Homo sapiens: one gene and its partners. The protein of the gene in region 3 purifies or fractionates together with the protein of the main gene of each other region. This does not show direct contact. Each region holds a gene or a part of one and is shown on either strand. Other genes may lie near its edges.

What was found.
Region 1: the proteins of PITPNM3 (region 3) and VAPA purify together in Homo sapiens (co-immunoprecipitation; 3 studies listed by BioGRID and IntAct, with this or other methods). This does not show direct contact.
Region 2: the proteins of PITPNM3 (region 3) and VAPB purify together in Homo sapiens (co-immunoprecipitation; 3 studies listed by BioGRID and IntAct, with this or other methods). This does not show direct contact.

The regions. Positions count from the first base shown.
Region 1 is NC_000018.10:9,943,316-9,953,998, forward strand, and holds part of VAPA (vesicle-associated membrane protein-associated protein A), read left to right. Parts: intron 1-1,608; coding exon of another isoform or gene 1,609-1,743; intron 1,744-7,079; coding exon 7,080-7,253; intron 7,254-10,683. UniProt on the Homo sapiens protein: Endoplasmic reticulum (ER)-anchored protein that mediates the formation of contact sites between the ER and endosomes via interaction with FFAT motif-containing proteins such as STARD3 or WDR44.
Region 2 is NC_000020.11:58,439,414-58,450,096, forward strand, and holds part of VAPB (vesicle-associated membrane protein-associated protein B/C), read left to right. Parts: intron 1-1,493; coding exon 1,494-1,670; exon of another isoform or gene 1,671-1,671; intron 1,672-4,663; coding exon 4,664-4,822; 3' UTR 4,823-10,683. UniProt on the Homo sapiens protein: Endoplasmic reticulum (ER)-anchored protein that mediates the formation of contact sites between the ER and endosomes via interaction with FFAT motif-containing proteins such as STARD3 or WDR44.
Region 3 is NC_000017.11:6,551,536-6,562,331, reverse strand, and holds the start of PITPNM3 (membrane-associated phosphatidylinositol transfer protein 3), read left to right. Parts: upstream 1-5,776; 5' UTR 5,777-5,925; coding exon 5,926-5,947; intron 5,948-10,796. UniProt on the Homo sapiens protein: Catalyzes the transfer of phosphatidylinositol and phosphatidylcholine between membranes (in vitro). Binds calcium ions.

The DNA of each region.
Region 1 (10,683 bases), on a different chromosome or scaffold from region 3:
GAAACTTAGGAACCCTTTCATTTTAGAACAAAAAGACTCAATATTTTTTCCTGGATAACAAGCATAAGCAAATACCATCCTTAAGCACACTAAGATGTGTCATTACCCTAGTCCTCGGGATCAGCAGGTGTGTGCCAATACATTTCATTTTGTTAATGGCCCCTAGTGTCTTCAGTTGAGTTGTTGTCAGTGCTAGTACTGAAAGCCATTGAGCCTGTTCCCTGTATTGTTGACAGCTGGAGGCACATGATACGAAAGCGCTGTTGTACAAAATAGGGTTCTTTGAATTATTAGCTCTGTTTGGATTGTCAGCTCTGTATATACGTAATGTCCAATTAGTGGTAGTGGTTATTTTTTAAGGATCAAATGTGGTTTTATTATTTTTGAAGTTTTATGACCTATTCAGTTCTTTGTGTTCACTTCTAAAAAATTTTTGAGGCCTTAACTCTGACATTTTCTAAATTTCTTAAATGTATTGCATTTCATTTATGTCCTCCATCTGACATTTGAAGGTGACATATTTCCCTTTTTTTTTTTTTTTTTTTTTTTTTTTTTTTTTTTTTGAGACAGTGTCTCGCTCTGTCACCCAGGCTGGAGTGCAGTGGCGCGATCTCGGCTCACTGTAAGCGCCGCCTCCCGGGTTCACGCCGTTCTCCTGCCTCAGCCTCTCCGAGTAGCTGGGACTACAGGTGCCCGCCACCACGCCTGGCTAATTTTTTGTATTTTTAGTAGAGACAGGGTTTCACCGTGGTGTCAATCTCCTGACCTTGTGATCCGCCCGCCTTGGCCTCCCAAAGTGCTGGGATTACAAGCGTGAGCCACCGCGCCTGACCTTGAAGGTGACATATTTTCTAGAAAAAAATACTGATTTTTTTTAAATGAAGACTGAGGGGCTGTAAAGAACAGGGATTTCAGGGGTCTTATAAAGGGATTTCAGGGGTCTTATCATAAAATGGTTGAATATACATTATTTTCTGTTGAGACAGAACAAATGGGGTATCAGTAAGTATAATTAGGGAATCCCTTTCCCACCTGTTTGTATAATACAGTATTTTATCTATTAAAGGAATTTGAAAAGAAAGGAAGAGAACTATGGACTTAATGGTTATATGAGTCTTTAAGTGTTTATTGGCCTGGGATGTGTGTGAGAGAGTGAGTGTATTGGGGGATAGGCTTTAAGTACAAGAGAGGTTTATGAAATTGTTCAGATTGAGTGTTATCAAAGATAAGAAGACATACAAGTGCTTGTTTTTCAGATTATTGACAATTATTAATTAGTAAACATTAAAAGCCACAAAGAATTAGATGGTATTCATTTTAAAACAATGTAAGGCTGGCATAAATTTTAATAAAGTATGTACATTTAATAGGTGCATGTAATGCAAGTAGATTATAACTAATTTTGTTTGGGAAATACAAAAAGCGAGTTCAGAAACTACTTTTGCTTTAACATAGCTATTATTAGTATTGTTTCTTATGCATTAATGCATTTTTATAAAGTGTTAATGTTTAGAGCCTAATGCTTTCTGTGTCAGTCATTCCCAATATCATGCAGAAGAAATCAGAGTTCGGTGAGAATCTGAGAATATGTTTCCCATGCCATCTCAGGGTATAACTCCACCAGGGAATGCTCCGACTGTCACTTCAATGAGCAGCATCAACAACACAGTTGCAACACCTGCCAGTTATCACACGAAGGATGACCCCAGGGGACTCAGTGTGTTGAAACAGGAGAAACAGAAGGTTTGTTATAGGGAGTTAACAGACTTAGGAGTCTACTAGTGTCAATGGTTAAGTTAATGTAGATACCTAGCAGATAAGTGGTATTGTGAGTATGTTGTATGAAGTAGATAGAATTGAACTATGCCTAAAATTACAATAAAACTACAAAGCACTTAAAAATCATGCATACAAACTATTCTGTTCTAAAAAACTTCTGAACTTAACTAAAATCTATATAGTGAGCAGGACAGTATAAGTGTGAACATTATGAAGTTGCTGTAATTTTTTTCTTTGAGATTTGGGGAATATACTCTTTTTTTTTTTTTTTTTTTTTTTTTTTTGAGATGGAGTCTCGCTCTGTCACCCAGGCTGGAGTGCATGGCACAATTTCAGCTCACTGCAACCTCTGCCTCCCCGGTTCAAGGGATTCTCCCACCTCAGCCTCCTGAGTAGCTGGGAGTACAGGCACGTGCCACCATGCCTGGCTAATTTTTGTATTTTTTTGGTAGAGATGGGGTTTCACCATGTTGGCCAGGCTGGTCTCATTAAACTCCGACCTCAGGTGATCCACCTGCCTTGGCCTCCCAAAGTCCTGGGATTATAGGCGTGAGCCACCACATGTGGCAACCCCACAGTTTTAACAGATTGTTTATACTTTGATTTGGTTTTGCAGATGATATGCATACTAAGGCTTTAAAAAATTATCTAAATGTTTAATAATTTTTTGTTTTTGTGATTGGGAATTATTTACTTCTGGGAGTCATGATCCTAAAGAAACAGTAAATTGGCTGTTTAGAGTGGGAAAAAAAAACTTCAGGTAACTTTGTTACTTAAATCCTGTCTCTTAATTCATAGGTTAAGACCTTAATTTTGCCTCTCTCGGTTTATGACAGTACTCTTGACTTTAGCCTTTTAACTCCCTTTATGTGCGTTTTTATCCATCACTCCTGTTAGTTGTAAGAATGTAGGCCCACGTTTATGTCTTTTATCTCCTTTGTTCTTCCCAAGGCTTCTTTGCAAACTTTTTCTTGTATTTCCAATTCCTAGTTCCCTCTTTTTCTAATTAACCCCCAGTAAAAATACTTGGGATATTAGAACTGAAATTCTGATGGTTAAAAAAGAATACAGAAGTACAGTCATGCATCTGTTAAGGATGGGGATATATATTGAGAAATGTGTTGTTAGGTGATGTGTTGTATAAACATCATAGAGTGTACTTACAAAAACCTATATATGGTATTGCCTTTTGCTCCTAGGCTACAGACTTGTATAGCCTGTGGCTGTACTACAATGGTAAGTATTTGTGTATCGAAACAATCTACACTGAGCTTATTCAACCTGCAGCCTGCGGCCCACACGTGGCCCATGATGGCTTTGAATCCGGCCCACCTCAAATTCGTAAACTTTCTTAAAACACTATGAGTTTTTTTTTGTGTGATTTTTTTTTTTTAATAGCTCATTAGTTAGTGTTAGTGTTAGTGTATTTTATGTGTGGCCCAAGACAATTTTTCTTCCAGTGAGGCCCAGGGAAGCCAGAAGATTGGACACCCGTGACTATACACAGAAAAGGCGCAGCAAAAATATGGCATAAGAGATAAAATTGTATACTTGCATAGGGCACTTACTGTGAATGGATCTTGCAGAACTGGAAGTTGTTTTGGGTGGGTCAGTGAATGAGTGGTGAGTGAATGGGAAGGCCTAGGACATTACTGTACACTGTAGACTTTATAAACACTGTACACTTAGGCTACATTTATTAAAATTTTTTTCTTTAATCTTAGCTGTCCGTAACTTCATAAACTGTAAAATTAAAATTTTTGACATAAAGCACAAGCACAGTGTATAGATAAATAAAAATATCTTTTTAATGTCCTTATTCGCTGCCTTTTTCTATTTTTTAAATAAGATTTTTAAAAAAACTTCTTTTCTTAAGACTAAGACATAGCACACACATTAGTCTAGGCCTGCACAGGGGCGGGATCATCAGTATCACTGCCTTCCACCTCCACATCCTGTCTCACTGTAATGTCTTCAGGGACAGTAACACTCATGGAGCTGACATCTCCTATGTTAACAGTGTCTTCTGGAATACCTCCTGAAGGACCTGCTGGAGTCTGACTTAGAGTGTCCTTTTTGTTTTCGTAAGTAGAAGGAGTACACTCTAAAATAAATGATAAAAAGCATAACAGTAAATACATAAACCTGTAACATAGTCATTTATTACCAAGTATTCTGTATTGTACATAAATCATATGTGCAATACTTTTATATGACTGGAGTACAGTATGTATATTTACACCAGCATCACCACAAACGTGAATAATGTATTGTGATAAGACCTCACTAGGTAATAGGAATTTTTCAGTGCCATTATTATTGTATGGGAACACTATCATATGTATGAATCATTGTTGACCAAAACATCATTATACAGAACATGACTGGACAACTCAGATGGAGGATTACTGCAGATAGGCTAAATAATATAGTGGAAACTGGACAAGATTGGTTTATTGTTTTAGTTGATACACACCTTGACCTTCCAGCTTATTCTGAATTGCAGTGTTAAATGTAAGGTTACCATTCATCAATTTACTAAGAGTCACAGCATGTTGAATCTCTCTGGTGTGCTTGTTTCATGGTTCTCAGAACAACCAGTCTTTTCTTTCTGGACCAGTTTGAAGCAACTCTCAAGAAACAAGCTGTTTTATTGGAGCCAAACCTCACTAATAGAGGTCCTGGATGGAAGCATATACTTAAAGTTACACCTGCTTAATTTTTTCCATCAGGCTCTTCAGATTGTCACTCCATGCATGACTCAAAGCCCACCCTCCCATCACACTTCCCCCCATTACATATACATATATAGCATAACATATACATATGTAGCATATGTATATGTAAATAAATTAGATTTTCTTGCACCTGTTATGTATGTTCACTGGTTTGTAAGGGGCCTAGGTAGTATGTGATATAACTTATTGGGCACACTTTTGAAATGTGTTTCGGCTTCACTGTATTCTTTGCATTCTATTCTGTTTATGCTCCACATATTGGTTATCATTTCTTCTCCTTTTTGTTACAAAAGCAGTATAACATTTTTAAGAGAAATTCAACAACAAAAAAATCTAATTCTATTTGCTTAGATAAATTCTAATCTAATTCCAAGTCTAATTCTATTAGAATTAGAAAAATCTAAATCTAATTCCAATCTAGTTATCTTTTTATGGAATGTCTTCCTATGGACATGTTATTTAAAATTTGAAAGAATGGAAAGCTGCCCATCAAATGCTTAACAAAAGTGAAATGTTTAATTTTGGCAAGGCATAGAATAGAATATTTAATGACATGTCATTTAATAATAGTAATATAAATAATAGTTTTGTTGATTTGACAAGATTGTGAGAAATGACTTTTTCCCTTCCCTCCGTAATTTAAAATTTTATGCAATGTAAAGAATTTAAAAATAATCAGTTGTCGAGCTTGATGATTCTTTTAGTTTTTTTTCTCTTTGGTGTTGACCCCATGTATATCTTTTTTTCCCCCTTTTGGAGATAGGGTCTCACTCTCACCTGGGCTGGAGTGCAGTGGCACGATCTCGTCTCATTGCAACCTCCGCTTCCTGGGCTCAAGCCACCTCAGTCTCATGAGTAGCTGAGATTACAGGTGCACACCACCATGCCTGGCTAATTTCTAAAATTGTTTTTTGTAGAGACAGGGTCTCCCTCTGTTGCTCAGGCTGTTCTTGAACTCCTGGGCTCAAGCAGGCCACCCATCTCGGCCTCCCAAAGTGTTGGGATTACAGACATCAGACATGGTGCCCTGCTTCATCCTCTTTAAGTTTTTATCAGTTTTCTGGTATGAGTATGATACTTTTTCCCAATTTTTAACCAAAACCTGAAAGTTCTTCTATTGCCATATTGGTGGCCATTGCCACCTCCTTTATAGAGTAAGTCAGTGTGCCAACCTCATTATCAGAAGTTGGATTTGTGCTAGGATAGAATTTGACCACACTGAAAATCACAAATGAGTTCTAACTACTATTAAGGAAAAGAACAGGAAAAAGTATTGGCAGGGTAAAATATATCTGAAACAGTTTTTTAATAATAGGGGCGGCTATTATTAGATTGGTTGGGGTGGGAGAAATGGGGGTGAAGAACAAAAAAGCTAGCAAGAGAAAAACTCAGAGAATTGAAGTAGGCTGCTTTAAAACGTTGCTTAACTGGGAAGCTTGAAGAAGAATGGAAGAGTCTGCCGACAGGTCACATACATGCTGTTGTTCATTAGAACCTCATTATAAATTTTCATTTTTAAATAGATTTTACATGGATTTAGGCATACTAATCAAATCACATCCCCTTCATAAGAATAACAAGTTTTGCCCTTTGAACAATCTGTTTATACTTAATATAAAATTGGCAGCTGGGATGGTGTGGTAGGTGTGCAGCCTCTGATAAATCTTATAAAATGAGTATTGTGGAATGCCATAAAGTTGATTTAGTAAATGTCTTTTTTAGCAGTTTATAGCTGAATAAAGCAGATTTTACCTAAAATTATTTTAAAGTAAGTGAATTTAATTAAAATGAAAAAAGCTTGTTACACTAATACTGCTACGATGTGTGGTGACATAAATGCTGTTGGAGTGAAGGATGTTGGGGTACTTTAGACAACGGGCTGAAGAATACATAGGTGCTGTCATAGATATTTATCTCCAGGCCTTCACTAGCTTCAAATGGTTCAATGTTGGTGAGGATTAAGATTTTGGGGCTCATAGTCTTCAAAGCATGCTAAGTGCTCCTGTGATGTTGAATCACGTGAATTAAAGCAAACAGCATTACTAAAGATGACAAATTAATAGAAGTTAGCTTTTCTTGGGCATGTTTTTTCTTAGGTAGTTTCCGATTTTATTGGAATGATTACGATAATATCCCCCTACCCCCCAGAACCTTATTTGAATTGCACAACCAGAGCACGGAAAATGACCTTCAATGGATTTTGTTGACGTCATTCAGCATACTTTCATTGAATAACTACTCTTGACCAAAGTGCTGGTTTTAGGGGTAAATACAAAGAGAGATGGCTCTTGCTCTCTCAGCCTTTGAAGTATTACAGGAAAGAACTTGAACAATAATTATTAAGATACATAATAAAGTGCTATGGTAGAGGTACGTGCCAGGGATTATGGGAATAGAGGGAGTGGGCTGGTTATTTAGACTAATCTGACTGCTGACATGTACTGATTTAGGCCTTTTAAAGAGTTTTTCATGAACAAAGATGTAGAATTTATATTGTTATTTGTTTAAAACCTGTAAGGAGATTTGGTTAGTTAAAAAATTCCCAATATCTTTGTAATGCAGAATGATATGGAACCTAGCAAAGCTGTTCCACTGAATGCATCTAAGCAAGATGGACCTATGCCAAAACCACACAGTGTTTCACTTAATGATACCGAAACAAGGAAACTAATGGAAGAGTGTAAAAGACTTCAGGGAGAAATGATGAAGCTATCAGAAGAAAATCGGCACCTGAGAGTAAGTTCTGTTGGTTGAAAATAAATTGATTGAAATGAAGGTATAGGACATGTGAGTGTTATTAGGCCATTTTAGCAATTAGCTTTTAAATTTTTGCTTGGTCAGTTCTTTCTTCTTTGCCCCAGTGCCTTTGCTCCCCACCCTACTCCTCTTTTAACAGTCTTCCCGTGGTTTCTCATTGCTGCAAGTTCCTTACTTTAGCACACATTCTAATTATTTGTGATCTGGCCTGCAGTATTGCCAGCTTCTGCTCTTGTTTCTCATGTCCTTCCCATTTTGTGCCCTAGTCATACTGAACTGCCTAGGATTGTGTTGTCCCACATCATAGCCATTAGTCACCTAGGGCTGTTGAGCACTGAAATGGGATTTGTTCAAATTGAGCTGTGCTGTTGAGTGTAAAATACTGATGTTGAAGAGTTAGTACAGAAAAAGGTAAAATCTTTTTTTTTTAATGGTTACATACTGAAATAGTAGTTTGGGTATATTGGGTTGAATCAAATATATTATTAAAATGAATTTTACCCATTTCTTTTTACTTTTTAAATGTACTGTTGGAAAATTTAACTTTACATACGGGGCTCACATTTGAAGCTCACATTGTATTTGCGTGGGGCAGCATTGGGCTGGAGTATGCTGGAGAAGCATCTGTTTATCACCCCTCTTTGCTTTAGTGTAAGCTCTTCACTGTGACTGGAAAGGCCCAGAACCCTGCCCCTCCCGACACAGCACATACACACATTGACGTTTTGCTACTACAGCATATAGCCTTTGCTGGGACCCTCTCCAAAAGAAGAAAAAAATCGATTTGTCATGTCTGCTTTGTGCCTCCACTATGCTGATCGCCTTCTACTGCTCTTACTTGTTAGAGGCCTTTCTCCCTCTAGTGGGCAGTAATTGCCTTGGTGGCAAGGGCAGTGCTTCATTTATCTCTGCATTCACCATACATGCATGTGGTAGTCATTCATGTATTTGATTGAATTAAATGGATGGCGAAGGAGGACTGATTTGAATATGTCTGAAATTTATGAATAATTTGTCTTTGACAAGTAATTACTTGTTTCAAGACCTAAATACCTATACGTTGCTCTCTAGGCTTTGTTTGAAGCTCTTTGCAGCAAAGTAGATGATACAAAAATGTATGTAACTAAAATAAGCTAAATGATGGGAGTTATTTGATTATTCCTTTTGTTAGGTGTATGTAGGAACTACACTCTAAATTAAAGGCACTGTGTTTTAAGTCGATCTGTGAACTCCTTTGCTGAAATGCTTTTTAAAGTGAATTTTTGTGTCTCTTCATGCTTGATGTTTCATAGTACCCCCTCGAGGGGTACCCGTCTGCTTCCAAGCACTTGTCTGGGTAGCGGAAAGAATATCTTTATTTCACACCTACACGCCATGGATCTTTTAAAGGATGTTGTTGGTTACTTTTACTTCATCTGCCATGACTTCCATAGTTCTGTTCTTTGATAAAGATGTGCTCCTTAGGGTGCTCAATAGATTTCTTTCAAAAGCCACTGTTTACCTCTGGCAGGGAGGGGAGAAGTGGAAACAGTGAGAATGACATAGATGGGGCAGGGCTGGAAAATAGGAAGAGTGAACCAGGGAAGTAGGTGAGAGAGACTTTATTCCTGGTTTCTACTCTTTTTATGCTAGTGTTCTGTATGAGATTTTATTTGAGAGATGATTCTGCTGCTGGAAAAGTAAAACAAAAAAGCTGGGCTGGGCGGGTGGCTCACACCGGTAATCCCAGCACTTTGGGAGGCTGAGGCGTGTGGATCACCTGAGGTCAGGAGTTCCAGACCAGCCTGGCCAACGTGGTGAAACCCCGTCTCTATTAAAAATACAAAAATTATCCGGGTGTGGTGGTGGGTGCCTGTAATCCCAGCTACTTGGGAGGCTGAGGCAGGAGAATCACTTGAACCCAGGAGGCAGAGGTTGCAGTGAGCGAGATCACGCCATTGTACTCCAGCCTGGGTGACGAGCAAAACATCGTCTCAAAAAAAAAAAAAAAACAAAACCCTTGAAGACCCACTGGCTTACAGAATTTCAGACCCTATACACAGGCCCACCATAATTTTTTGCCAGGTTCACTTTCTTGCTCCTGTCTGTTCACTATCCCTTTTAATTCCCCTAGCCCTGTGGTTCTTAATTCACACTGCATGTGAATCACCTAGTGAGCTTTAAAAAGTTACAGTTGACCAGGCTTGCCCCAGACCTAATGAGTCACAATCACAGGAGTATTAAAAGTTCTGTAGATGTTTGTGATGTGTAGCTGAAACTGAGAATTACTGTTTATATAGGACTAATTAGCATGAGACCAAAAAAACCCAACTCCAGAAAATCCAGTAATGCAAATAAAACTGTGCCATTAGGTGTACTCTTTTAGTTAGTGTTTATTTATAAGCACAATAAAGGAATCATGGGAGAAAATATTGCCTTGTACTGAAAAAAGTAAAAAACTGTCCTGCCATTTATCAGATTGGTTAACAGACAGAGATAAAGACAACTGTGTAGTTAACAGGTATTAGTATTTTTCCCAAGGTTCACATTGCACACAGTGTCATAACAACCTCCTGCTTGGAGTGACTTCTGCTTTCTTCTGAGAAACCTTCTGCTCTAAAGACATAGTGCTGTGTGAAGCCATATCAGCAAGAATGAAGCAGCCTACTCTTGACTGGAGGATCTAAGTCATTTTGACACAGAGAAGCACCCTCATTTTCCAGTCCAGGTGCAGAGCTTCAGATAAGGGTTTCCTATGTACATTTCTCATCTAAATTTGTAGTTTCTGAAGAAACAGTATTCTTTCTCTGCTTTGCAGTCGAGACCTGGTGCTACCACTTTACACACAGCCCTCTGCTTTGCTTTGAGCATATAAAAACACTGTTACTTAAATTTCACGCTAAACTGTTTCCTTCCCCCAAATTCTGTGATACCATATCTCTGTTTACGGCAAGAACACCCTTTTGTGCCTCTGCTGTTCCGGTTCCTTAGTTGCAGTGTGTCAGTAAACCCAAATGGCAGACTACAGGTCTGGGTAGTTTTTGGCTGATTGGGCTAGGACGGATGTAACTGATTTTAAATACCATGGGCCACCTTGGAAGTACTCTTCTTTAATTATATTTTTAGTGGGATTTAAAAAAAGGTAAATATAGCCTATCTAACTTTTGCTTTTTAGGAATACATTTCTCAGCTCCAGTTTTAAAAAATCAGTGTTATTGAGGTATAATTTATATCCCATGGAGACACCCACTGTGAGTGTACAATTCATTGATACATAGAACTTTGTAACCATCACTATAGTTCAGTTTTAGAATGTCTATCACCCCCGGAAAGTTTCCTTATGTGGTTAGCAGTTAATCCCCTTTTCCGTCCCCAGCCATAGGCAACCACTAATCTACTTTCCGTCCCTATAGATTTTTAGCTCCAGTAG
Region 2 (10,683 bases), on a different chromosome or scaffold from region 3:
ACAAAGTGCCCTGTCAGCCTCCCTACCCCTTTTACCCTATCTACCTCTTCAATCAAAGGCTGCTTTTAGATGAGGATTTCTCAGCCTCAACACTGTTGATATTTGGGGCAAATCCTTGGTGGTGGTGGAGGTTGCCCTGTGTACTGTAGGGTGTTTTATTAATAGCAGCATCCCTGGCTTCTGCCCTCTTGATACTGGTAGTACTTCCCAGTTGTGACAACTAAAAATGTCTCCAGATATTGCCACATGTGTCCTGGAGGGCAATATCAACCCCCATTGAGAGTGATCCCATTCCGGTGTTGCCTGTGGGGAGAAGGAAGGAGCCCCATCCTCTAGGCTGTCCACTGTGAGCGCTTTACCTTTCATGATCCTCACTTGTGACCAGTTGAAGAAAGGAGACTGTATCTGAAATGCTAATTTGGACTTCCCTTCAACCTAGTCGAAAACATTTTAATTTTTATAAAAACACCAAAACTGTGAAAGCATGCAGCATGTGAAACTATCCTAGCCATTAATAGCTGGAGTTGGGAAACAGAAGTACCCTGAAATGTTGTGTTAACAGTATCTATGTTGGTCTGCGCGAGTGCTGTTGATTTGTGTCAAAACTACCTGAGATTTTATTTCTGCTGAATCATTTACCACTATCATTACCCTGTTTCTTTAAGTGGATAGTGGTCATTTTTTCCCTCTTCCCAGTGTACATCCTGTCACAGGAAGGTCAGTTTGGAAGCTGTGAAAGCAGTATTCTGGCCTCAGCTCTGTGATAGGTTGACTTGGTAGCCTGGGGCCTTGCTTCACAGGGCCTACTCTTCTCATCTGGAAAATGATGGGTAGAGCTAGATTCCAGGCCAATGATCGTCAGTTACTCTTTCCCTGACAAGCTGCGTGCTTCCATGCCCTCCCTCCACTGACTGGCTCTCATCCCCTGTAAATCTCAAGAGGGGATCATAGCTGAATCTTGGCAGGGGAAATAAGGGGAGTATGTAACTTCCCAAGATTGAAACATTGCAGACACTGAGTTTGTTTCACCTTCATCCCAGCTTCCAAATGCTAAGTTGGTAAAGTAATTCGCCCTCTGTCTAATGCTCTCCCAAGCCTCCTAACCCCACTAAGGCAATCCTAGGGATGTTCACATCTTTGTGGTGACAGTAATTTGTGGCTAATAATTCCTGAGCTTGCACAATTACAGTATGCTGATTTTTCCGTGGCAGGAATTTGATAGTGCAATATACACAGCCCTTTTTCTCTTTCTTTGAAGTATTAGTCTCAGCCGAACTTCATTATTTGCCCTTATCCATAATTTCTAGGGCCCTGTTGCTTTAGATTATTAAGATATCAGATAAAGTAATCCATTTTTAAAATAAATGTGACATTTTACAGTGTGGATGAAATGCTACCACGTTTGGTGTTTGCTGAGAACTACTTTACTTTGCATAAAAAAGTCCATTATTACATGGTCGGTGACACTTAGGCTTTCATTTGTTTTTGAACAGCATGATGTAGAAATAAATAAAATTATATCCACAACTGCATCAAAGACAGAAACACCAATAGTGTCTAAGTCTCTGAGTTCTTCTTTGGATGACACCGAAGTTAAGAAGGTTATGGAAGAATGTAAGAGGCTGCAAGGTGAAGTTCAGAGGCTACGGGAGGAGAACAAGCAGTTCAAGGTAATAGTTTATTTTCTGGTAATCTACAGAAAACAAGGGCGTTTTCACTAGCTTCTTGGGTGGGGAAGTTGATGAGCCAGTGAATATATAGATTTCTTTTTGCTTTTGGTATTTGGCTATTTTTTTCTCCCCAGGGAGAAATTTCCATGGCTTTCATGAGAGTCTCAAAAGGGTCCTTGGATCTGCCTAAATTAAGAACCACTGTCCCTTGATCAGAAATTTCTCAACTGTTGAAGCTCTTGTCCCCTTAAAAAAAAAAACAAAAACAAAAAACTTGGCCGGGTGCGGTGGCTCACGCCTGTAATCCCAGCACTTTGGGAGGCCAAGGCGGGCCGATCACAAGGTCAAGCGTTCAAGACCAGCCTGGCCAACAAAGTGAAACCCCGTCTCTAATAAAAAATACAAAAAATTAGTTGGGTGTGGTGGCAGGTGCCTGTAATTCCAGCCACTCGGGAGGCTGAGGCAGGAGAATCGCTTGAACCCAGGAGGCGGAGGTTGCAGTGAGCTGAGATCGTGCCACTGCCCTCCAGCCTGGGTGACAGAGCTAGACTTCGTCTCAAAAACAAAATAAACAAAACCCCAAACAACTCAAACTCTCCATTATTGTAAATTGAAAATAAATGTTGAGACCAAAATAGTTTTTATTTTGAATATGCATTTTTAAACCACTTGGGTGAGAATCTTTTTTCAGAGAGTGAATACTGACCTATACTCTGTTTTAATGCAAGTATAGTTCTGATTTTAGAAGACTCTAAATAGGTCTGGGCAGTTGTGGCTCATCAAACTATTGATGTGGTGATGAGCTTGGAGGTGGGGTGCCTCACAGTGGGTAGGAGGTGGAGATTATGGAAGGAAAATCTGAGCTTCTAGCTTCTGGATGAGGCAGTTGGCATTGGCAATGGAAGGTTGTATTGTACTGAGTGATGAAGTGGGGAGGCAGGGGGTGCTTCTTTTGGCTTGTGGTGGTGTGGAAGTTGCTCCCATCCAATATGAAACAGCTCTGAATCTGTGCTGGTCACAGCATCTCTTAGGCCTCTGTTTGCTAAACACCTCTAAGGCCCCTTCCAGCTTTAAAAGTATGAGTTTTCTTCTCTTTTACTCTGACAGTGAGGTAGATATAGGAGAACTGACAGCATTTGGGAAATGGCATCATCTTCTTCCTTTGCAGTGATTTTGATTTGCCTCAGTCAGTAATTTCTTTAGTGTGTAGTAAATTGTGAAGCTGACACTACTTTTTGGCTAAAAATCTAAGCTATGCCTGAAGCTTCTCGAGTGTATTTCTCTTCTGAAACAGAGTTCTGTGCTATTTAAAGTGGTAAATAGGTAGAAATAGCTTCTATATAACCTAATAAAATAAATGGTTTAGTTTGCCGGGTTTTTTTTTAAGCCAGTCGGACACCACCAGTTGTTTATCACTGTGCAGTGATACGGGCCATGCCCCATGAGCAGAATATCCTTAAAATATGATCAGACCAATCTCAACATTAGAAGATTCTTTATCCTGCCAAACACTGCCTTCTTGTTTTGTGTTGGTTTATTCTGTCATCTGGCCAACAAATTTACTGAGGGTCTAATATGTGCCCGGCACTGTGGATTCAAACACGAACAGCCCCTGCCCTTGAGGAGCTCTCTGTTGTTGGGATAGCAGGGAGAGACATAGACAGAAGTGATTACAAGCCAGTGTGATCAATGTCCCACAGAGATAGCAACAAATTGCAGGGAGAGTCAGCTCCATGGGACTCATCTGCCTGTGGTCCCCAGGACCTACTAGGTACTCGGGCGGATGGGAGCGAATGGAAGGAAACGAAGAAAAGAAAGTACAGCTGGTGTGTGGGGTTTAAGGATGAGGAGATGAGGTAATTAGCAAGAGATCTATCAGCAAAGATGAGTCTGTGCCAGAATAGAATGGCTTGATGCATGTCCCTCTTCAGGGATGTGGGCTTGGCTTTGAGAGCATGGAAATGGCATCATAGATCTACATAGTAACTTGCAGATTCTTAGGAAAGTGCAAGGCAGTTGTGGCAGTGGAGGTGAAGGAAGAAAAAATTTTTCATTTCTTACATTTCCATGTAGTTTGGGGACAAGGGGAGGGTGGGGAATATGGTCAAATATCTTTATATGTATGAAAAAGAATGTTGCTTCTTCAATGAGAAATCTATGCATTAAGTAGAAAATATTTGAGATGAGTGTATGAAGGCCAGTCACATTTTAATATTCCAAATATCATTTGATCCAGCAGTCTGGATGTAACTCATTAAGTACCAGCTATCTACAGAGCTCTGCATTTGAAAGCTTCCAGATGTCCCACTTTTAGGTTTTTTTTTTTTTTTTTTTTTAATATGGAGTCTCACTCTGTCACCCCAGGCTAATTTTTGTAATTTTAGTAGAGACGAGGTTTTACCATGTTGACCAAGGGGTAGTCTTGAACTCCTGAGCTCAGGTGATCCACCCGCCTCAGCCTCCCAAAGTACAGGGATTACAAGCATGAGCCACCGTGCCCAGTTGACTTTGTAGATTCTTTTATTTATATATTTATGTCTTGGGAAATGCCTGTGATTTTAAAAATCGATGATTTGATCAAGGAAGGCTATTCATTAGAGGCAGGAAGGACAGAGAGGTTGGGGTTGAAGAGAAGCATCCGGAAGACATGGCCATAGAGGTGGGTGGGGCCGAGGGTGCAAAGGGCCCAGTTGACCCTTTTAAGTGCTTTTTTCTGTAAATCACGGGAAACCAAGGAGCACCCTGTTTAGATGTCTGTTGTAACTAGCAGCAGCAAGTGGAATGGATGAAAGAAAAGAGGGGACTGTTTTCTCAGTGGCTTCAGGCTAGCCCTTTCCCCTCTGTAGCCTGCAGTTTCTCCGTTTGCAAAATGCGGTTGGACCATATCATGTCATCCAACACTGGGCATAAACAGCCCATCCCGTTAAGCTGTACAGTTGACTCCCCTTTCTGGTGCCTTGGCTTGTCTTTGAAATGTGCGTTTGCTCCCGTAGGAAGAAGATGGACTGCGGATGAGGAAGACAGTGCAGAGCAACAGCCCCATTTCAGCATTAGCCCCAACTGGGAAGGAAGAAGGCCTTAGCACCCGGCTCTTGGCTCTGGTGGTTTTGTTCTTTATCGTTGGTGTAATTATTGGGAAGATTGCCTTGTAGAGGTAGCATGCACAGGATGGTAAATTGGATTGGTGGATCCACCATATCATGGGATTTAAATTTATCATAACCATGTGTAAAAAGAAATTAATGTATGATGACATCTCACAGGTCTTGCCTTTAAATTACCCCTCCCTGCACACACATACACAGATACACACACACAAATATAATGTAACGATCTTTTAGAAAGTTAAAAATGTATAGTAACTGATTGAGGGGGAAAAGAATGATCTTTATTAATGACAAGGGAAACCATGAGTAATGCCACAATGGCATATTGTAAATGTCATTTTAAACATTGGTAGGCCTTGGTACATGATGCTGGATTACCTCTCTTAAAATGACACCCTTCCTCGCCTGTTGGTGCTGGCCCTTGGGGAGCTGGAGCCCAGCATGCTGGGGAGTGCGGTCAGCTCCACACAGTAGTCCCCACGTGGCCCACTCCCGGCCCAGGCTGCTTTCCGTGTCTTCAGTTCTGTCCAAGCCATCAGCTCCTTGGGACTGATGAACAGAGTCAGAAGCCCAAAGGAATTGCACTGTGGCAGCATCAGACGTACTCGTCATAAGTGAGAGGCGTGTGTTGACTGATTGACCCAGCGCTTTGGAAATAAATGGCAGTGCTTTGTTCACTTAAAGGGACCAAGCTAAATTTGTATTGGTTCATGTAGTGAAGTCAAACTGTTATTCAGAGATGTTTAATGCATATTTAACTTATTTAATGTATTTCATCTCATGTTTTCTTATTGTCACAAGAGTACAGTTAATGCTGCGTGCTGCTGAACTCTGTTGGGTGAACTGGTATTGCTGCTGGAGGGCTGTGGGCTCCTCTGTCTCTGGAGAGTCTGGTCATGTGGAGGTGGGGTTTATTGGGATGCTGGAGAAGAGCTGCCAGGAAGTGTTTTTTCTGGGTCAGTAAATAACAACTGTCATAGGGAGGGAAATTCTCAGTAGTGACAGTCAACTCTAGGTTACCTTTTTTAATGAAGAGTAGTCAGTCTTCTAGATTGTTCTTATACCACCTCTCAACCATTACTCACACTTCCAGCGCCCAGGTCCAAGTCTGAGCCTGACCTCCCCTTGGGGACCTAGCCTGGAGTCAGGACAAATGGATCGGGCTGCAGAGGGTTAGAAGCGAGGGCACCAGCAGTTGTGGGTGGGGAGCAAGGGAAGAGAGAAACTCTTCAGCGAATCCTTCTAGTACTAGTTGAGAGTTTGACTGTGAATTAATTTTATGCCATAAAAGACCAACCCAGTTCTGTTTGACTATGTAGCATCTTGAAAAGAAAAATTATAATAAAGCCCCAAAATTAAGAATTCTTTTGTCATTTTGTCACATTTGCTCTATGGGGGGAATTATTATTTTATCATTTTTATTATTTTGCCATTGGAAGGTTAACTTTAAAATGAGCCCTATCACTGAGAAATACGTGTTTCATGATTTAACTCTGTGTGTGTGTGTGTGTGTGTGTGTGTGTGTGTGTGTATTTTTTTTTTGGTTGTCTTCAGCTGACAGTATGAAAAATGAAACTGCTGAAAAAGCTGAGCACCTGGTCACCCTTGGCCTTCCATTGCTTTGGCCTTCAGTAAAAAGCAGCCTCCCTTCTAGGTCAGGGAACCATGCCATTGAGACTAGTAACGGGCGTTCTGGGCACAGTCCCACTGTGCACAGGTTTGAGAGGACAAGTTCATCAGAAGGAAGGCAGTCCTTAGAAGTCACATACGTTGAGCCACGTTGCTCCTAAGCCTGGCTCTGTCAAGCTGGGTCAGGGGCCTTGAAACTGGAGAAGTGGAAGTCTATGGTTGGTCTGAGTAAGTAACTTCCTGTCTTCATGAAAAAAGTTGACTTTGAATCCCAGGTACTCACAGAAATGGTGAACAGACTTAGTTGTTACCCAGGCACCCATGGATTGTGTTGAGTGTGCAGACAGGGAGGCCACCCCAATAGGAATTCGTCTCCAGGATTTTTCCCATGTGTCCCCCAGTACTTATAAAAGGGAGTGAAAAGACCGAGCTGTAAGGCATGTGCCTTCTGCCACCTGACTTTCCGTGAGGGGACTAAAATTTACTAATTGTAGTTGCTGCAGCCAGTTAAGTCCTGTAGCTTCCAGGCCCTCATGTCTTTGATAGGAGAGTGCTTAGGTGGTCCCCAACAGTGCCTAGGGGTACAGTACAGTCCCATTACACTAGAGCAGGGCTCTATTTATTTTTAAAGGATATGGCCGTGTGTTTTGATAAAACTTTATTCACAAAAACAGCCGGGTCATGGGATTTGGCTTGTGAGTCTGTAACAGTTCTTAAAAAGAATATCTGAGAAACTACTCTGTTTTAGACCTTTGAAGGTGATTTAGAGTTTTGTGTACATCTAGGAGAAGGTGTTCAGCTTCTCAGAGGATGTGGACATTTTGGTTGCAGCTAAAAATCAGTCTCTGAAGTCTCTCTCCCTTCTAGAGGTTAGGACTTGGTGAACATGTTTGTGGGCCTTTTGACTGAGTGGCAGAAGGAAACTGCTCAGGAAGAGAAACAGGTGACTGATGGGAAGGTTGATTATTTTCTCAGTCATCCTGGCAGCCAAAAATGTGCCAGGAAAAGAAAGAATGTGGAGCACGCGTGGCTCCTGGAGGACTTGGAGATGCATGCACATTTAGGGTGTTTTCCCTAGAATTACATAATGAAAAAAAGAATAAGGCAAAGAGGAGGTGAATATGGGGCCTGTCACAACGGCCTGCCCTGCCCCAAGAGGGTTAAGAGTCAGATAATCGGGACGAAACTGGCATGGAAAGAGCGAGCCTAGGGAGGATGCCGCTGGGCAGTGTGCATGGGGGAGCTGCTGCCAGGCTGCCCTCCAGTCTGCTCCTGTGGTTACTGGCTCCACAGCACCTCAGAGAGGGCGGCCCTGGCTTCAGAAATGCCAGCCATAGTGCTCACAAATGCAGAAGAGATGGAAGCGGTGACAGAATCCTGAAAGTTTTTATTGATTGAAGTTTTAAATTGGTAACTTAAGCTTCCTTGGCACGATACAAAATACCTCTTAAAGACAGCAGGCTTTTTTATTTGTAGGTGTGAGGAACTGGCTTTAACTTTTTTCTCCTCCTAGTTTGCATGTTTTCCTTCTCTCGTCTTCTGAACTGCTGGCACCAGCAGTAATACATACTGATAAAATCAAAATTGATTTTTACCAGTGGCCAGTTTATGGCTAGAGAGACGACTTATACCTCCATAACACAGAAGGGGGAAAAATGAAGAACCTCCAGTGATCCGTGAAAACCTAAACGCTTTCAAACAAATCCCAGGAACAGAATTGCTATCGAAAGATATCATTGCCCAGTTTGCAGGCTATGTTGAGTCAGATAGAACTGAATGTAGTGAGAGCTCAGAGCTACAGAGCCTTTCAGATGAATTTGAAAACAGACTCTGTGTGTGTGTGCATGTGTGCATGTGTGCATGTGTGGCATATGTGCCGTATGTCAGTAGCTTGACAGTTTTCAAATCGTGCCTATATTTTTTTGCATACACAAATTTTTGTGTTTGCAAACTCAGAATCCATGCCAAAATACAATGTTATATGTCATTTTCAGCTCCTTCTCTAAAGGAATGGCCCATTTCTCATTGTAGTTTGAGAAATACATGTATGAAGAGATAGGGGTCTTGGGCTTCCCAGTGTCACTTTGAACACCTGAATAACATTTAACTCCTGAGACCTTCTCGGTGTAGAGGCCACTGCTTCCCCCTGCTGGAGATGGCATTTCATTGAAGGGCCTCTCGTGGCTTTCCCTGCCCCCGGCTGTCTGGCCTGAAGAAGGAGAAAGAACCAAACTGAACTATGAAAAGTTACCACTCTGAGGAGACCTCTCTTAATTAACACTTGGGGCCATGTTTGCTGTTGTTGAGAAGGAGTGTTCTCAAAGATGAGCTGGAATGGAATTGTATTTAGAAAGGCCCCTGCAAAGTATATAGATGGATGACTCTAGTTCATGACATACAAATCCCATAAGGCCAACGACCACTCTTCTGGAACACCAAGAGCAGCTCTGAGATCATGCTGGCCCTACGCGAATTGAGTTTCTGTGGCCTAATTGGATTTGGAGAACGCCTTCCCTGGCCCCTTTTCCTCAGACAGATCTGCTCTGATAGGAACCTTTTCAAGAAAGTTACTGTTGTTTCAATGCCACTCCTTACCTGTATAGAACATTTCCAATACATTCGCTCATTGAACTTAATCCTTGCAACTGTGACTGGGGGGTAGATGGCTCTGTTTGCATACGAAGAAATAAAGGCTCCAGGAGGTTAAATCGGGCAACTTTTTAGAACTAAATCAGTCTCTGTAAGGCCTACATTGCTAAGATACCATTTCAGCTCTGAAAATCTGCTTCAGGGAAGTGAGTGGATGAGGCCTTCCTGCCTCAGCTACTCTGCCCGTCTGTACATCTTTTGTGTCTGCCTCCGTACCTTATTCAGTTATTTTCACACTAAAGTAAGTAGAATTAAGACTGTAGTTCAGATGCTTTTTCTTTTTCTGTTGGAAACTGAACACACTACAGACAGTGAAAAAAGGTACATATTCCATTTTCTCATTGCCTGAAGATCTCTGCTGATGCTCCTGGAGAATGACTTTGGGGGCTTTAGAAAGAATATTGCCAGTCCGTCTCGGCAAGGAGATGATGGGAGCGCTTTATATGGAGGCTTTACATGACTTGTAAATTAAATGTGAATGAGGGCAGTTGATTAAAATTGGTATTACAGAAGGGCCCTGCTGAGGTTTGAAAACAGCTGAGCTGCTGATGTCTCAGGCCTTTCCCTGAATTAGCACTGCGGTTCTCCAGGATATCAGCAAAGAGGGCAAGTAATAGAAGCCCCTGATAAGGAGCGTCAGCCGACAGGCAAGCTTGGGAGGCTGTGGGAATGGGTCTGCCCCCAGCTTCACAGACCTCTTCCTCCAGCCTCTGAATCCCATTAGCCACAGCCTAGAACATTAGCTGAGCTGCACAAGCTCACCCACCCCTGTGCCAGGGGGCCCTGACCTCCCTCCATGCCATGTTTTTGGCTGTATCTACGGCACTTAACAATAGGGGCTTTTTATTTTCATTACAGAGATATTTTGAAAAATTTAAAAGACATGAACTCACATAAACAGTTATGGATGATAGTTAAAAGAGAAACGGGTGGAGGTGGATGAGAGGTTGTCTTCATGAATATAATTACTTGAGATTTTTTTTTCTTAATGGAATTAGTTTATTAGAAAATGTCTGTGTTAAATCCGTAGAAAAGGAAGAAAAGTGTAGCAACAAAAATGTAGCCATTATCTAACTTGCCATAAATATTTGCAGTTATGATACCTTGGAATGTTGCCACGATATGGATTGCTTTGATTAAAAGATGTCAGTTGAATAAAACAGTACTGTGGGAGAATCGCTTTCTGCTGCTAGATAAATGCTGATGTTTATTTTTAAACCAGGAAACATTGATCCTGTAACAATGCCCGATTACAATTGCTTTATTACACCCCAGGGCTGATGGAGATGTAATCACTTGGCTAATGGATGTGGGTGCAGGACAGATGCTCGCTTGCTGGCCTGCTTTCCTGCTTGCATTCTGATGAGCTGCAGGAGTGCGCCTGGCCTTCTGCAGGTGGAGCTGCTGTCAGAGCTTCGTTTCACTGATACCCAAAGCCATGTCTGACTGAAATAAAACAGGTTCCCTTTTTTTTTCCCTTTGGAAAATGCCAACTAAGGGAGACTAATCAGATATCTTAACACAATTTCATCCAGGCTTAGTGCTAACAAGATTGCGGGGCTTTTTAGGGTTTAAGAAGATGAGAAATGAGTGTGCACGTTTCACACGTTGACTTGCCGGTTTTTCCA
Region 3 (10,796 bases):
TCTTTACAGCATCTGCCTTGAGGGTGAAGCCACAGCTGTCAACGTAACTGCTGAGAATGGACTCACCAGAGGGGATTAAGACAGGCAGGTCCTAGCCCTTCTTGGGGTCGAAGGTAGAAGCACACACTAGATTGGCTGGGCACGGTGGCTCACACCTGTAATCCCAGCATTTTGGGAGGCCGAGGCAGGCAGATCACTTGAGGTCAGGAGTTCAAGACCAACCTGGCCCAACATGGTGAAACCCTGTCTCTACTAAAAATACAAACATTAGCTGGGTGTCTAGTCCCAGCTACTCAAGAGGCTGGGGCAGAAGAATCGCTTGAACCCCAGATGTGGAGGTTGCAGTGAGCTGCGATTGTGCCCCTGCACTCCAGCCTGGGTGACAGAGTGGGACTCCATCTCAAAAAAAAAAAAAAAAAAAAGAGCACACACTAGATAAGCCACAGCCACCAGCAGGGAAAAGGAAAAGGTGGAGGAAGAGGAAGAGGATGGGAAGAGGAGGAGGAAGGGGAAGAGAAGGGGAGGAGGAAGAGGAAGAGGAGGAGGAGGGTAGGAGAAGGAGGAAGAGGAGGAGGGGAGAAAGAAGAGGAGAAGGAGGAAGAGGCAGAAGGGAGGAGGAGGAAGAGGAGGAGGAGGAAGGGGAAGAGGAAGGGAGAGGAGGAAGAGGAGGGGGAGGGGAGGAGGAAGAGGAAGAGGAGGAAGAGGGAAGGAGGAAGAGGAGGGAAGGAGGGAGGGAGAAGGAGGAAGAGGAGGGAAGGAGGATGAGGAGAAGGAGGAAGAGGGGAGGAGGATGAGGAAGAGGAGGAGGGGAGGAGGAGGGGAGAAGGAGGAAGAGGAGGAGGAGGAGGAGGAAGAGGAGGAGGGGAGAAAGAAGAGGAGAAGGAGGAAGAGGAAGGGAGAAGGAGGAGGAAGAGGAGGAGGGGAGAACAAAGAGAAGGAGGAGGAAGAGGAGGAGGAGGAAGAGGGGGAGGAGGAGGAGAAGGAAGAGGAGGAGGAGGGGAGAAAGAAGAGAAGGAGGAAGAGGCAGAAGAAGGGAGAAGGAGGAGGAAGAGGAGGAGGAGGGGAGAAGGAAGAGGAGAAGGAGGAAGGGGAAGAGGAAGGGAGAGGAGGAGGAAGAGGAGGGGGAGGGGAGGAGGAAGAGGAGGGGGAGGGGAGGAGGAAGAGGAGGAAGGGGGGAGGAGGAGGAGAAGGAGGAAGAGGAGGGAAGGAGGGGGGAGAAGGAGAAGGAGGAAGAGGAAGGGAGAAGGAGGAGGAAGAGGAGGAGGAGGGGAGAATGAAGAGGAGAAGGAGGAAGAGGAAGGGAGAAGGAGGAGGAAGAGGAGGAGGAGGGGAGAATGAAGAGAAGGAGGAAGAAGAGGGGAGGAGGAAGAGGAGGAAGAGGGGAGGAGGAGGAAAAGGAGGAAGAGGAGAGAAGGAGGATGAGAAGGAGGAAGAGGAGGGGCGGAGGAGGAGGAAGAGGAGAAGAAAGAGGAGGAGGAAAAGGAGGGGAGGAGGAGGAAGAAGAAGAGGAAGAAGACAAGGAGGAGGAAGAGGAGGAGAAGGAGGAGAATGAGAAAGGAGGAGGAAGAGGAGGAGAAGGAGGACAATGAGAAGGAGGAGGAGAAGGAGGAGGAGGAAGAGGAGGAGAAGAGAGAGAATGAGAAGGAGGATAATGAGAGGAGGAGGAAGAGGAGGAGGGGAGGAGGAGGAGGAGGAGGACTACGAGGAAGAGGAGAAGGAGGAGGAAGAGGAGAAGGAGAAGGAAGAGAATGAGGAGGAGGAAGAGGAGGAGGAGGAAGAGGAGGAGGAAGAGGAGGAGAAGGAAGAGGAGGAGGAGGACGAGGAGAAGAGTAGTTCTGGATGGAAGGGCATGTTCCACTCAGTGTTCTGGATGCTGGGTGGAATTGGGGGCATCCTGGGGCAAGGAGGAGACGGTGACAAGAAACCAGCTACTCTCAGAACAATTCTGTAAGACTCCAAGGAAGAGCAACTGTGTCTGGGACTACTTTTATGATTAGGGGTGGTTCCCATGGCAGTGGACAGCAACCATGACACTTTAAAGCATAGGAACCAGAAAGGAGGGGGTGAAGAAGGGTACATAGGCTGGGAAATACATCAGGAAGGGGTGCTTCCAGTGGTCCAGGTGAGACATAGTGATGTGATATTGGCCAGGGAGTGAGACTCAAGGACAAAAGGGGCTGTGGAAATTTACAAGTGGGAGTGAACACTCCTAGCTGGATGTTTGTGTTTGGCCTGGGAGGATGGCCCCACTTGCTTGTCCATGTTCATGTCATCCTCTTGGCTTTGGCCCATGGTTCCAGTTTGTCAAGGCCATGGTGATTGGGTTTGGCCCGTGGTCCCAGCTTGTCAAGGCCATGGTGAACAGCCGTGCATCTGTCCAGTCTGCATGAGCAGCGTCCTTCTTACACAGCTTATTCTCTGTTGTGAGCACTTGCGCTGAGATGCTTGACATGGCTCAAGTCCTGGAGGGAGGTGGAGGCTCCCTCCACTGGAGCCCATCAGGGAGTGGACCGGGGTAAGCCACTTGACCAGGCTATCTTCTTGCTCCTGACTCCCTTTGTTGTTTACAAAGTTACTGTCAGAGAGCTGGGCAGCAGCCGTGCCCCAACCCAGGCCCAGAAGGCAAGGCGATGCCCAACTCCACTAGTCGTTATAACCGTGTCCAAATAGGAAATGAGCTTTGCCTGGCATGACTAGCTTTCAGGGGGGCCATGTTGGCTCCTAGGAACTGTCACTTAGCTTTCCAAGTGCTCACACCAGCTGTCCAGGCTGGATAGCCAGGCCTGGGGTCTGCCATGTCGAGGAGTTGTCTTGCAGCCAGCTCCCACTCCTTACCCACCTGGAGCTCTCCAACCTGTCCACATCTCTGCACACGTCCTCCACAGCCATTGACAGGATGGGCCCCTGCTCATTTTTACTGGTTCTCTGGGCTAGATGCTTGCCTGGGCCTGGGAGCAGCTGGCCACTGTGAAGGCAGGAGCAGAACAAGCTGTGGTCAGAGGAAAGGGCCTGGGTGCCAGGTCTCAGAGAAGGGATTTGATCTGGTCTCCTGGCACAGTAACTCTGGTAACTGGGAGAGTTACTGGCACAGTAACTCTGGTAACTGGGAGGCCCCGTAGGCCCTGGCTGGCTCCTGCCTCTCTTTCCTCCGGGCAGCAGAGGTCAGCGTGGCTAAATTGCTAGTTATCCCTTTCTTCAATTAAGGACAATTCTTCTGACGCAGGAAGTTAACTCCCACCAGTTAATCTAATGGCCTTGAGTTTTGATGTGTTTGCTCTGTCAGAAGGCTGGGCTGGAACTTCCTTGGCAGCTGGTAACAGTCAGTGCCTTCAGGGGCTGCCTTAGGGGCGGACAGAGGCTGGGGTGAAGGTTTAAAGAGGGGAACCATGGATCTGGGCCTCTGAGTCGTGGTTTTCAGGGGACAGATCTGGCTTACTGTCTTCCCATCTGAGAAATGGGGTGTGGAGTGGTCTGGAGAGATGAGTTCTGAAACTCCCATCAACTTGGCACCTCCCCTTAACCGCTCCACCCAGGCCCTTCTGGGTGACTAGTTTAGGGTTTGTGAGGACTAAGTGGTGGGAGGGGAAGGGGTCTGGGTGCCCACCCAGGGAGCATCTGTCAGCAGGTGTTTGCCTGTGTTTGTGTGTACGAGTGTGCCTACACACACCCATGCATGCATCCCTAAGCACACACAAGCACACACACATACACCCCATGCACACATACCCAGGCACACACACAAACACAACGTGAAGCTGTGCCCAGAAGCAGGAGGGCCCTTGATGCCCTCTGGTCACTGCTGCTACTGTGAGCCAGGGCTGGGGAGGAGCTCAGGCCCAGGCGTGTCCCCTCTGTGGCAGGCGCATTGCTTCTTCTGCAGCCAGCGTTCTGTCTCCTGCGTGACCACTCACACCTACAGACCAGGTGGCCAAGCCTGGACATTGTCCAGGCTATCAGGCCTCTGAAACACCTCAGGGAAGGGTGAGGCCAGTGAGGCCCAGTAGACAAAGCACAGGGGCCTGAAATTGATCCTCCATGACCACAAGCACCGAACTTTCTTAGCCCCCACTTCGTTATGTGTATGCTGAGGATAACGCAATGTAGCTGAGAGAGTACATGAGGGTAAATACCGCCTGTTCAATCAATAGTCCTTGTTATTCTCATCCCCAGTCCCATTCTCATAGTGGGGAAAGGCTGCAGGGTCCATTCCTGCTCTCCCAGCTGGTGACCAATGGCAGGTGCTGGTGAACAGCGTTGGATTCAGGAGCCCAGAGCTTCTGAAATTCTACATCTGTTGGAGTTGGTGCTGTCATCTGGCTCTGGGATCCAGAGCTCTTGGGACTCATGGGTTTCCTGGGAGGTGAGCTCTGGCAAACGTGGATGGTTGTTCTCCCTGGGTGAATCCATACTAGGGAGTTTGGGTAGAAGGCCTTGGGAAGCCCTGGTTTTGTTGGGTGAGGTGTCGGAAGGCAGAGCAGAACTCATGGATGGGACATGCGGGTTGTAGATTTCAGCTCAAACGAGTAAGAACATTCTTAAGGCCAGCACTAGCCAAAAAAAAAAAAAAAAAATTAATAAAAGGAAGAACTCTCACTTAAGATACTGAGCTTCCTGTCCTTGGAGGTAACCAACCAGGAGCTGGAGGACTGCTTAGCAGGAATCTTGTGAATGGAGTCAAAGCCCCAGAGAAGGCACTGGACTGAGAGCCCCCATCTAACCCCATGTGTGCCCTGTTTCCATAGAGGAGCTTGCAGGACCCTGGAGCCTGGACCATGGATGGAATTCTCCAGTTGACCTTTTCCCTGTTAAGTGGAGTGGGACAGGGTGGGTTGGGTGCCTGGCTCTACAGATGGTAACTGGGCTTCAGCCTTACCAATTCCTGGGGGAGGCAGGGCACCCTCTCAGTGGAGGGTTGTTACCTCTCAGGCACCGCCAAATACAATTGGCCATCTCCTGCTCTCTTTTGGGGCTGGACTGTGGATCCCTGCTGCCCCTAAACAGAAGTCATAACCCATATCTCCCCGGACCACAAGGCCTGTCCACTAGAATCTCTGCATCCCGATTTAGGAAGTGGAAGGCGGGTACTGCTCACCACCAGGCCGCTGGGGTCCACAAAGCCTGCTCCAGCCTAGAACCCCAGGTGGATGTGCAAGTGTTTTACTTATCCCTTGAGGGTTAAAATCACGGGAATCCTTTCTCTTTTGAGGTTAGGTCAGACGCCATAAATGATCCAGAACCCCTGGAGCGGGGGCTGATGGAGGGGGTCCCTCTCTTGTCTCTGATCCCAGAGCGACTTTCCTCTTGACTTCGTGGGGGCCTCCCTTGGATCCCTGTCCTCCTTCCTCTCTCCGCTCCCTCTGTCCGTCTCTCCCGGAGCCGGAGCCGGGCTCTGGGTCTCTGGTCTCCTCTGAATTTCTCTCTCTCTCCCTCCACCTCGGCGTTCTGGCCCTAGGAGCGTCTCTCTCCAGCGCTGTCTAATAGTCTGTGCGCCCCTCTCCCAGTCCAGGGCCCCGTCTCTGGCCCGCAGTGTCTCGGGCTGTCTCCGCGTCTCTGAGCCCCTGGGCTGCCGCCCCTCGCGCGCTGCGGTGGCCGCGCGGGCCGGAGCGGAGCGGGCTGGAGCGCGGCGGCCACGGCCCGGGGCGGGGGTGCGGGCCCGCGGGGGCGGCGTTGGGCGCCTTCCTTCGTCAGTCCCTCCCCGGCGGCGCGGGGGGTGGGGTGGGGGGGGGGCGCGGCCGCCGCTCGGCGCCTTTAAGGGAGCGGGAGGGAGCGGCGAGGCGGCGGCGGCTGCGGTGGCGGCAGCCGAGGCGAGCGGGGCGGGGGCGCGGGCGCGGCGCTCGGAGTCCGTTCGGGGCCGGAGGCGGTCGGGGCCGGGCCCGGGAAGCGCGAGGAGCGCGCGTAGCGCCGCCGGAGCCCGCCGCCCGGGACATGGCCAAGGCGGGCCGTGCAGGTGAGGGCGGGCGCGGGGAGGGCAGGGCCGGGGCCCGGGGGAGGGACTCGCGCGTCTAGAGGAGGGGCCGCCGGCCCAGGTGAACCCCTCGCGCAGGTGGGCGGAGGTCCCGGGAGGGCGTAGGGGGCGGTAGCGGGGCTGGACCTCCCGCGCGTGGAGAGGGGGCTCCGCGCGCCCCCCGTCCTTCCTGCGCCCCCGGTCACCTCGGGGGACACCGCGTCCCCTTCTCCACGGCCCCGCCGGAAAGGGCCAGGTCTGCGGCGCCCCGGGCCAGTCCCGCCGTTGGGAGCCCTCTGCACCCCGCGGAGGCCCCGGGCAGACCCGGGCTTCGCCACCGAAGGGGATGTCCCGCGGCCGCCGCTTCGTCCCACACCCCAACGCAAACCGGGACGCGCCCCCTGCTCCTGCAGCTCTCTCCATCCAGGACGCCACAACCCCCCGCCCCAGCCCCCGTCACCAGCTCAGTCCAGAGACCCAGATTCCTTCTCGGGAAGGAGGGGAGCCCCGTGCCGCGCCGGCTGCTGGCCGCCCCGCCCCCTCCCCCATCGACCCTGGGACGCAAAGCCTCAGCTGCGGAGGCCTCTTCTGGGGTCCCGTGGGCTCTGCCCTCCCCCAGGCTCAGACGGTGTAGCCTGTGGTTTGAGGGAGCGGGCATTAGTCATTCGTTCATTCATCCAGCCCGACGTTCATTCACTAGCATCTGCTCTGTGCCAGACCCTGAGCTGGGCACCGGGGCTCAGGCGGACTCAGCCCCCCTGCTGCGCCCATGCTGGGGAGACCCAGGCCCGTGACTCATCGGGCACATTCTGGGCCCGATGGTGCCTTGGGAGGCGGGTGGAGGACAGCTGTGCCCACAGGGCCGGCCATACAGTAGGCGGCAGCAAGCCTGGTCTCGGCAGTGCCTCTTGTGAGGCTGGCGTGTGAGAATCTACCATGAACTCACACCCAACCCGTGACGTTGGCTGGTGCCATGCCGTCCCCCAGGACCGGGCGCGACAGTGAAGGAATGGGTGTGAATACCATCGGGCTGTGTGTCAATCCACCCCCAAGCCCGAAAGCTGCCCGGGACCCTGGGCTGCGGACCCGTCTCCCTGTGCAGGCACTGAGCCTGTAAGATTTAGGTGCCTGAGAATGCACTCCCGTTCTGTCCCCAAGGAGTCCTGTCGGGGTGGGGCCGGTTGTGTGAGGCACAGCCAGTATGGAACACAGCTAAACAGCCTTCTCACTCCCCTCCCTTTTCCCCTCCTGAGGGAGGCACTGTGAGATGACACCAAGGAAGCTGAAAAAGGCTTCTTGCCTCCCTCTTTCCTCCACCGTGCCTGGGTCCTCACCCACCCCGACTCCTTAAAATGGCCTGTGGCAGGGCGTGTGTCCCATCTGCTGCCCTACCCTGTGTGTGTGTGAGTGTGTGTGTGCACTGGGACGCCTTGAGCACAGGTCACCTGCCAGGGCACTGTCATCGCAACGGCAGTGAACATTTGCTGCTTGTTCTATGTATTAGGCAGAGTGCTAAGCTCTTTACTGTACCGTGATCCTGGGAGGGAGGAAATGCGACTCTCCCACTTTTAAAACATCTAGAAACAGATACTCAGAGAAATAGCAGCCTCAAGGTGGCTTAGAGGGTCTGGGCAGAGCCTGGACTCACAGCCAGGTCTATTGGACTCGAAGGACTCTCTCTGTCACTGCCCTGATAGGTCACCCCCTTACCAAATGGGGGTGCCAGTCTCAGTCCCTCTGCCTTAGCCTGTGGGTCCTTTGGTCCCTGGGCTGAGAGTCTGTGGGAATTTGTTCCAGTGACAGGTGGAAAAACTGCCCTGCTCTGAGCATCAATGCCTTGTGCTGTTCTAACATTTTGGTTTTTTTCTGCTGCAATTTCACGCTTGGCCCTTTCCCTCGAGGCAACACAGATTCCCCGTGTCTGTAGATCCAGTGCCTGGGCTCCTGCCCCCCACACTCAGCAGTCATCCCAAGGAGTCTGGTTACCTCTCCCTTCTCAGCTCAGCTCTCCCAGGCTCCTCTGCATTTTGTAAATGTCCCTTCTCTCCTTTTTTTTTTTTTTTTTTTTTGAGATGGAGTCTCGGTCTGTCTCCCAGGCTGGAGGGCATGGCTTGATCTCGGCTCACTGCAACCTCCGCCTCCTGGGCTGAGGCGATTCTCCTGCCTCAGCCTCCCAAGTAACTGGGACTACAGATACATACCACCACATCCAGCTAATTTTTGTATTTTTAGTAGAGACGAAGGTTTCATCATGTTGGCCAGGCTGGTTTTGAACTCCTGACCTCAAATGATCTGCCTGCCTCAGCCTCCCAAAGTGATGGGATTACAGGTGTGAGGCACTGCGCCTGGTCTCCCTTCTCTTCTTGATGCTCATAAGCCTACTGAATCAAAAACAACACACAGTAATGTGTGTATGAGAATCACATATTCCTCATTGGCAACATCTGTGAAGAATAGATTGGTGAGCTTCAGAACAGAGGGAGCCCTTGGAGATCAGGAACCCATCTCTTTCTTCACAGCTGGGGAAACTGAGGCCCAAGGAGAACATAGAGAGCGGGGTGGCTGTTCAGTACCACCTGCCTCGGATGGGCAGACTGATGGGCAGGAATGATCAGGCCTTCACTCTGGCGGGGTGGGGCGGCGGGGGGTGACACAGGAACAAAGGGCTGCTGAAGGCCAGGAGTGGAGGCTGTGGCACCCGGCCTGTGAATGAGGGGTCTGCACCATGACCTGTGAGATGTTCCCTTTAAAATCTGGCCAGTAGATCACCCACGGAGAGAAAAGGCAGAGCTTTGGGCCCCAGGGCTGCCATGGTACCTGACTTTAGGTCATCACGTGTGGTCTAGTGAATAATACCCCTGGAGTTGTGCAGTGCACAGCCTGAGCAGCAGGTCATGGCTGTGCCAGATTTGTGGCATGGCTTGTGTCGGACAAGAGCTAAAAGGAGGCAGTGAAAGGACTCTTACACTGCCAGGAGAATCCAGGTACAAGAGAAATTGTTATCGGGGCCCAGAGAGGATGAGATAGATCTTCAGAAGGTGAATCCAGATGGGTTATTACCAGTTCTCAATCTCTAGGGGAGATTTCAGTTACACAGAAAGGCATCATTTATGGTGGCCCCAGTCTAACCAGCAACAGGGAGGTGGGGGCAGGGGTGGGGAGGATTCAGAAGCTCTGAGTAGGAGGGACAATTTACAGTACAGAGCTCCCCACGGAGCAGAGAGGCCAGTGAGTGGCTTGAGACAGACAGTGAAGGCTGGGTTTCTCTGGGAGATGGGCCCTAAAGGCTGGCACAGTTTGTATAGAAAGGTGGCCAGGGGCTCGGTGCGGTGGTTCGTGCCTGTAATCCCAGCACTTTGGGACGCCGAGGCGGGCAGATCACGAGGTCAGGAGATCGAGACCATCCTGGCTAACACGGTGAAACCCCGTCTCTACTAAAAATACAAAAACAAAATTAGCCAGGCGTGATGGTGGGCGCCTGTAGTCCCAGCTTCTTGAGAGGCTGAGGCGAGAGAATGGCATGAACCCAGGAGTCAGAGCTTGCAGTGAGCCGAGATCGTGCCGTTGCACTCCAGCCTGGGCTACAGAGCGAGACTCCGTCTCAAAAAAAAAAAAAAAAAAAAAAGAAAAAGAAAGGTGGCCAGGGGCCGGCTTCCAGGTGGGGGTAGTGGCTTGAACAAAGGCTAGGAGGATGGAAAGGAAGAGGCACATGTGTAAGTGTGGGAGGACTGCTATGGGTAGGGGTGGAAGGTGGGTAGGAAGTGCCCAAAAGTAAAGAAACCTGGCTGGAGCGGAAGAATGCAGAGGGCTAAAAGGAACTCCAAAGAGCATGAAGACAGGAGTGCCGGGGTAAGACTTGGCACTGTGTTTCGACAGATCCCTCTGGCTGGGACGCCAGGGCTCCTGGGAAGCTGGAGAGAGGCCAGCCTGGTGGAGCTGCCTTTGTTGGGAAGGGTTGATTCTGACTCCTGCCAGCCACACTGCCCCTCCCTTCCTGTCTACCTCCCTGTGCCCCTCCCTCTGCACCCCAACAGGCTGCCCCTCTCTCCCACTGAGAGAATGAGGGTAGGGGGTGGGGGCCAGGTCCCCAGGTTAGGCAGGAGCAGAGTGAACAGCCTAGAGGGTCTTGGCACCTCTCAGGCTGGGGCAGGAATATCTGCAGAGACAGAGCCGAGGCCACAGGGTTGGGCCTCCCAGGCTGGAGGAACCAGTTTATTCTCCTCTCAGGTGTTAGCCTCTGCTCTGAGGGGTGTAGCTGGCAGGCTTCCATGTGGCAAACCTAGTAATTTGAGTCAGTAAAGTACTGATCCTACGGTGTTAGGATGGGAGGGAACATTTCGATACTCATGTTCCAAGTCCTCGTTAACAATGGGTCGCTGAGGGCCCGTGAGAGGTAGGTATTTGGCCAACGTCACAGAAGAAGGTGACGGCAGAGCCTGGGTTTCCAGAGTTTGGACCTTGCTCTGCTGAGTCAGCCTCCTTTGGGGTCCTCCTGGAGTGGGGCGTGTGCTCTCACATCCTCCCAAAGCGAGACTTCTCCTGGGCCCCTTACTCTGTGGCTCCCAGGGGCAGTGACTAGTGGCTGGATCACTCAGAGGAGGAAACATCTGGAAGCTTGGAAAGGGGACTAGCGCAGATTAAAAAAAAAAAAATTTTTTTAATACTTTTTTTTTCATAACGATGGGGGTCTCATTACGTTGCCCAGGCTGGTCTCAAACTCTGGGCCTCAAGTAATCCTTCCTGCTTTGGCTTCCCAAAGTACTGGAATTACAGGCATGAGCCATCATACCTGGACAACGCTGGGATTCTTAAATCTTTGGGGAGGTGCCAGAGGATTTGAGGCATGACTCTG